Linked DNA regions of Homo sapiens. The protein of the gene in region 2 purifies or fractionates together with the protein of the main gene of each other region. This does not show direct contact. Each region holds a gene or a part of one and is shown on either strand. Other genes may lie near its edges.

Region 1 (3,500 bases), on a different chromosome or scaffold from region 2:
ACCACTTGAAGCATATATTTTATATTGCAATATTGCTTGGATAAGTGTATTTTCATTGAGTTTATACTTATTCTTTGTATATTGTTTCAGACTTGCTTACATTTCTAAATCTTCAAAGATCCAAATGAGAGTTGAAAGTTTTACAAAATAATTGAAATAAAATAGATTATCTATGGAATACACCCATACTTTCAAGAATCTTAAGTCCTGAAACCCTGAAATAATTACACATGAAAGAAGAAAGATGTCTAACTTCTTATGAAACATTAGCTTAAAGAATATCAGGATAAACAAGGTACTGCTATAAAAGATAACTGAGACTTCCCCACACCAGAAAGTCAAACTCAAACTTTCTGAGTGTTAAGTAAATTCTGAATGACTATAAACCTGGATAGGTACACATTCCCATGTTTGGGATTCACGTTAAAATTAGGTTAATTCAGATGAGTACATCAACTTCTCCAAAAACTCCCCCGAGTTTTCTAAGACACTTTTTCCTATAGTTCCAAAACTATTTGAAATCTCCCTAACAATTTTAGCTTTCTGAATTTTAAAGTACAAGTACGCTCGCTGCCAGGATGACAAGGCTGCAGTTAACACACGCCATAGCCACATGCTGCCCTCTGTGCTGAATCCAAATGACACTAGGTGAAAGTGCTTTATCAGACTGTGATGTGCCACACAAATGTGAAGAAGTACTATTACTATTCCTACCACTGACACTAGACACCATGCTGAGACCATGAAACAAGGACTGAGTGAGTGAGTCTTCCTGTGAACTGGAAGTCGTTCCAATTAACAGGAAACTTCAGTTTTTATGAATGTTATTCTCCCCTAAACAGTTCGTATTAACCTCTGAAAGTTGAATCTGCAACAGATAGACCAGGTAATCCCATATGAGCTGCTGTTTACTGAATTAAGCTAAAGTGACCATTTGTTTTGCAATGAAGACGCAAACTATAAATCTTGGTAAATATTGTAAACTGGAAAATTGGTACATATTTCTCATTCATCAAACTTAACTCTATATGTACCTAGTTATTACCAGTTATTTTTACATCATATTTTTAACAAACTGAAGTATATTAAACTAAATTAAAAAACAATAAATATTAGCCAAATTACTAGATTATCATTTACAGATTTAACACACAGTGATAACAAAAAACCCAATGTCAACTACCTTTGATCAATTTTCCTCAAAATATTTCAAGCCATTTATTAAAAATTGTACTTTCTATTTTACTCTTTCTGAAGCACATCAAAATAAAGCATTGGTGGCACAAAAGGTAATATTGATATGATCAGAAGAATAATTTTAACGATAGTCATGGCATAAAACATATTAAAATAAAACATATATTCTCAACCAAGACAGACATTAAAGTACTGATTTTTCTTCCTCTTTTTGCAGGTAGCAGCTAGGTGGTGATGTCTATTTGTGGATTCCACTGACATTGTTAATTTAAATAATAACATTATGGGAAAACACCATTAGAGCTGATTTCTTAACATTCTCAGGCTAGATTAAGAGGAAAATAAATTCTACAAAGTAAATATTCCAAGATTCCTGGTTCATATATTATTCAATATCAATTGTTTATTTTTATACTATACTGAAACCAGCAAAGAGCAGTGAAAAGACTATGGACTTTAGAGTGGAGCTAAGCTGGGTTCAAATCCTACTTTTACCACAATGTGGCTGTGCCACCTTGGGCAAGTTGCTGAACCTCTCTGAACCTTCACCTCTTACCCTTTCACACAGGGCTTTTATAGCCTTTTCGTGGCAATCAGAAGAGATGGCTTATATGAATCAGTATCAAATTCATGCTTTCCATACATTCAGTAAATACACAGAAAACTTCTCTCAACAGGCAGTATGTTTATATAATAAATGACTACTCACTACTGGTAGGCACTGTGTTTGATGCATTATGTAGACTGTCTTAAACAAGGACATTGCATATAAGTATGAGCTGATATTGATACTGCACAAACTCTGAAATAATTATTAGAGCTACGTACTACTCCCAAATGTTAAAGGCCTGACAGATTTTGATACTACAGCAATAGCATCCATCAATGGGAGGGTTTTTAAAAATAGGACTTTTTTTCTACTTTTAAACCTAACATGTATAACTATGAGACATATGACAAAGCAATACTCTAGTTGTGAGTAAAAACAAATTGAATTTTTATAACATTAATAATTTCATCTTTTCCATGTTGTAATTGTATATTATTTCTAAAACCCAGAAAAATACAAAGTCTACTTCTAAAGTCCAAAACTAATCTATACTTACTGTCATTTCATCTCATTATGAACTCAATACTGTGGCCTGGCCTGCTGTTATGTGAATAATATGAAACTCTCCATTGATTTAACATCACAATAAAAATTACATACATATAAACGTTAGCACCAAGGGACTGTTTCCAGGTTTGGAAACAGATTTATCAATGTTGTGATCTTACCTGGTAAATAGATTGCCGTGCCTTCCACTGACTCTTCATTAATGCCAATCAGGAAATCTGTTTCATTAGAAGTCTCCAGAAGGGAAAATGGTGGTGTTGCAACCTCAGTATTAAATTCCACAGGGTTTACTGTTGCCTGATCATTGGAATCAAGAATTCTCGCTGCCACTTGCTGTTCTGATGCTGCTATCGTGGAATCCTGCCCTCTGATTAAAGCTGCTTGAGTTTCAGGGTTTATTTCTGGAGAAGAAGAAAGCGTGGGCCTCTCAGAAGTCTGTGGACTTAGCCAAGGCACCACACCTGCCTCGACCCCATAGGTGGCAGAAGCAGAAGTAGAGTGTGGCCACTGTGTAGCACCTTCTAATTCAATTTCATCGGCAGTTGTAATAACAGTTCCAGCCTCAGGTGTTTTAATGGTGGGAAACATCTTGATTGCTTCTCCAGAAACTTGACCATCGGTTTTGTTTTGGAAATCTTGGAGAATCTCAGTTCCTTCCACAGCAATAAGTTCTGTGGGAGAAGCTTCCATTTCTTCTAATAACTCAGGTTTACCATCATCTTCTGAAGGTTCTAATTTTGTGTCAGGAGATAAAGAGGGAGGCTCAGTTATGTGAAGGTATTCCTCACTTGATGGTTTGAAAGTCGCTTCAATATTTACATGAATTTCCTTAAAAGAATCCTGTGGGGACATTACAGATGAGCCGACGTCTATTCCTGGCAGAGCACTGGGCTGGGGGATCTCTGTGTGTCCAGAGGCTTCACTGCCTGAGTAGATAGTGAGGGGAGATGATGGTGTCTGAGAAGACAACTTCGCAAATGTTGAAACTGCTAATGTTGTATCAGTGTAATATGGGGGATTGGATCCTTCCATCACATCAGGCACCTCTGTTACACTCTGATCCATAAGGTGGGTAGTAGCAATACTTAGATAGGGAGTATGGTCTACTAATGCCTCCTCAGCTCCTGAAGAGAATTCTGGCTGAAAAGAAGGACCAGCATGTTTTTTGTCTTCATACTCCTCCTGA
Region 2 (3,962 bases):
AATCTCTAGCTGGCACAGGCAGCCAGTGAGTGAGGCTGGCGGCTGCAGGGGCACAGCCTTTAGAATGAGTCCTTCAGTGCACAGGTCCCAGGGTATACGGGGTAGTGGGAGGAAGGAGGGGACGCCTCGCAGATGCCACTGTTGGCTGGGCTACACCTTGCCACACTTGTTACTGCTTAGGAGGCTTTCTGGAGTGTTCCTTGGGTGCTACGACAATCTGCAGCAGACACTGTCCTTTCACCGCTCCTGGTCCTCGTTTGCTCCCCAGTGATGTCAACAGCTGAGGACTGCTCACGCTGCAACAAAAGGCTCTGCAGTCGCTGTCTAGCTTGCCCTAGTCGTCTCTAGAGTTCTGCCTGAACTGAAACTCAAGTGGGGTTCAGCTCATGACTTGTGGCAATTGACCAGGAAATTCACCAGTTGCTGTGGCTGGAAGGATTTTCAGTCCTGTGGGTTGTAACCAGAGGCCACAGGTGGATTCTGCCTTAGGCTCATGAGATTTCCGACTTGCTGTTGAAGAAAATGCCTTGTGAAGTGACAACAGTAGCTCTGACCCAACTGCCGGTGCCTCGCTAGTTCCTATACGTCCCACTGGATCCTCACAGCCCCGGGAAGCAGGTGCTACTACTCTTATCCCCGGGAGGAGACAGAGGCCGAGAGAGGTTAAGTGACGTGCCCAAGTCACACAGCTCGGCAGCGGCCGGGTTGAGCATCAGCAGTCTGTTTGCAGACCCCTCACTGTCACCCCCTGAGCCAGTGCGCCTTGGGCCCTGCGGTCAGGATGTCTCAAGCGTGGAGGCATCACCGGTTCGTGGCAGTCTCTGGAAGGTCACTGAGCTCTGTGCCCAGAATCGAGTCGGGGGAGTCTGTGCAGAGGTGGCCCTGTGTGTGGGGACAGTGTGTGACACAGACACTGCTTTGGATGGACACCTCTCCCGTGACCTCCTAGCATCCAATCCCAAAGGAACAACTGTTGCAGAGATGGACCGCTGGACACAAACCCACGTGCGTTTCTCTGGAGACACTGGCCAAGGAAAACAAAACATGCTCGAAGGCCAACAGCTGCATGCCCCACCGCGATGTGACCGCAGACACCCGGGGTGTAGAAGGGTCTCTGCCTGGTGGGGGGACACGTGCAGGCCGAGGAGAGGCAGGAAGGAGGCTGCCTCCGACTCCCCACTGGACTGCATGGCGACGGCGTGTGGTGGGGCAGTCAGCTAAGCCATTTGCCTAAGGGGCTGTCGGGCATCTGCGTGCTGGGGACCGACAGTGTGGGTGTGTTAGGAGGATCTGTATGGAGCACATTGCTGCCTCTGGCTAGGACAGGGTGGAAAGGGTGGCGTGGCTACAGCCTGACCCATGGGCACCGTCCTACCCTTTGTTCTGTGCTTCCGAGTGTCAGTCATGTGCTGGGGTCTGTGGGCCCATGACTCAGACGGTGAGCTCTGACCTTCCTGAGCCAGGGCTTTGCTGTAGTTGTGCCTGGCTCAGGAGCTCTAGGACAAGGGGACCGCTCCAGGTCTGCATCTACGGTGTGGCAGGGCCCCTCGGCACTCTTGTGCACTAGTGTCATCTTTCCCATTGAAATGACTGTGAGGACCAGAATGTGCACATGCAGATGGGCAGCTACTTGTCTGCCTTGGCCCTTTATTACACAACTTGCTGGGGGTGGAGATGCCACCCCCCGGCAGTCAGAGCCCCTTTATGATGTCATGGGGCTGGTTACATGACTGCCAAGGGGTGCTGCTGGCCACACTGCACTAGCAAGTTTGCCAGATGGAGGACAAGCGATCATTGAGTATGGCTCGCTGTGAAGAAAGAAATTCGAGAGGACAGGATCATGGCTTGGAAAGGGTGCCTTTCCCTCCCCAGTTGCAGTCAGAGACCTACCTTCACCCAGCAGATCCTTCCCCTGCCTGGGACGACCCGGGGTCCACTGGGAGCCCTAACTTGAGGCTGCTGACAGAAGAAATCGCTTTCCAACCTCTGGCCGAGGAAGCTTCGTTCAGAAGGCCGCACCCTGACGGTGACGTCCCGCCCCAGGGAGAAGATAATCTCCTCTCCCTCCCCTTTCCACAGAAACTGTGGAGACTGGTCAGCAGCAACCAGTTTTCGTCCATCTGGTGGGATGACAGTGGGGCTTGTAGAGTGATCAATCAAAAACTCTTTGAAAAGGAGATTCTCAAAAGGGACGTCGCACACAAAGTGTTTGCCACAACTTCGATAAAGAGCTTCTTCCGCCAGCTAAACTTGTATGGCTTCCGAAAACGGCGTCAATGCACTTTCAGGACCTTCACCCGCATTTTCTCCGCAAAAAGGCTGGTCTCCATCTTGAATAAGGTAATGAACGACAAGCCTCTGGAGGGGTTAAGTCGGTGGGCTCTGGGGCCTGGTCGGGTGGAAGTCCCAGGACTGCCTCCTGGGAAGTGGGCGACCTCAGGCAGGGTGTGGGGCCATCGCTGTGGGCCTGTGTCCCCCTCTGGGTGGAGGTGACATGAACTAAGAGTGAATGTGGGGAGAGGGCTGAGGATGGTGCGGGCCCCTCTCGAGTGTGTAAAATATCACAGGTGCCAAGTAGCCGTATCTGCGTGTCGTCCTCCCCGGGGCCAGCCATGTCATCTGGCGGTTGCTGTGTCCCCCTGACTCCACAGCACATTACCCTGTGAGGTGAGCAGGCCAGGGGAGTCTGGTATTTGTACCACTGTCACCCTAGCTGGTGTCTGGAGAGGTGCTCAAGTGGAAGCACTGAAGGGCGCCTGGCGCAGGAGGTGCAGATGCTCCTGCTGCCCTTGGTAGGTGGGCCCCTGGTGTGGAAGAGCCAGTACCCAGGGCCTCCAACCCAGCCGGGGTGCATTCTGTTGCCAGCTGACACTGCATGGGGGAGGCCCAGAATCTTCTTCCCTCCTGGTCTGCAACTTCAAAGACCCTTTCCGCCGGCCATGGACACCCTAATCTGCCATTTTGAGGCTTTTTCCAAGACGGAAAGGCCCGCCACAACTTGGTAAACCTTGACGATGTGAACGCGAGTCCCCAGCTTCCTTTGGGGACTGGGACCTTTTCCAGAAAGGCCTCCTGGGCCAGTAGAGTTCTCTTGCACAGGGGCGTAGATGGTTGGTAGTTGTAGTCCATCCTTGTGACTTGCAGTTTCCTTTTGTTTATTTAAACTTTGACTTATAGTTAGAGTTCTACTGCCATCCTTACTTTCAAAGAGACTCCCCTCACCTCCTCGTGAGGATGAAGAGAAGAGTGGGTGTCAAGTCTGCACCAAGACATCAGGAGGAGGACAAGCCAGAAGCTGCTGGATCCTGTCTGGCACCAGCAGACACTGAGCAACAAGATCACACGTCTCCGAATGAGAATGACCAGGTCACACCGCAACACCGGGAACCGGCCGGTCCCAACACCCAAATCAGGAGTGGCTCTGCTCCACCAGCAACTCCTGTGATGGTGCCTGATTCCGCCGTGGCGAGTGACAACAGTCCAGTGACCCAGCCGGCCGGCGAGTGGTCAGAGGGCAGCCAGGCTCACGTCACTCCGGTGGCCGCTGTCCCTGGGCCTGCAGCGCTGCCCTTCCTCTATGTCCCTGGATCTCCCACTCAGATGAATTCTTACGGGCCTGTGGTGGCCCTTCCCACAGCGTCCCGTAGTACCCTTGCCATGGACACCACAGGACTTCCTGCACCTGGCATGCTGCCCTTTTGCCATCTCTGGGTACCGGTGACCCTAGTGGCTGCTGGGGCTGCACAGCCTGCTGCCTCCATGGTCATGTTCCCCCATCTCCCAGCTCTGCACCACCATTGCCCCCACAGCCACCGCACGTCACAGTACATGCCAGCTAGCGATGGGCCCCAGGCGTACCCAGACTACGCAGACCAGAGCACATAGAGGGCAGCATTTGGGCAGAATATGTGCTGGTCAATAAATGTGTCAGAAAATGAGTAATTTTCTGACTGCACAAAAAA

The links. The genes of interacting proteins can lie anywhere in the genome.
Region 1: the proteins of HSFX1 (region 2) and VCAN purify together in Homo sapiens (affinity purification with mass spectrometry; one study listed by BioGRID). This does not show direct contact.

The regions. Positions count from the first base shown.
Region 1 is NC_000005.10:83,541,244-83,544,743, reverse strand, and holds part of VCAN (versican core protein isoform 1 precursor), read right to left. Parts: coding exon 2,476-3,500; intron 1-2,475. UniProt on the Homo sapiens protein: May play a role in intercellular signaling and in connecting cells with the extracellular matrix. May take part in the regulation of cell motility, growth and differentiation. Binds hyaluronic acid.
Region 2 is NC_000023.11:149,772,906-149,776,867, forward strand, and holds HSFX1 (heat shock transcription factor, X-linked), read left to right. Parts: upstream 1-1,162; 5' UTR 1,163-1,776; coding exon 1,777-2,340; intron 2,341-3,177; coding exon 3,178-3,885; 3' UTR 3,886-3,962.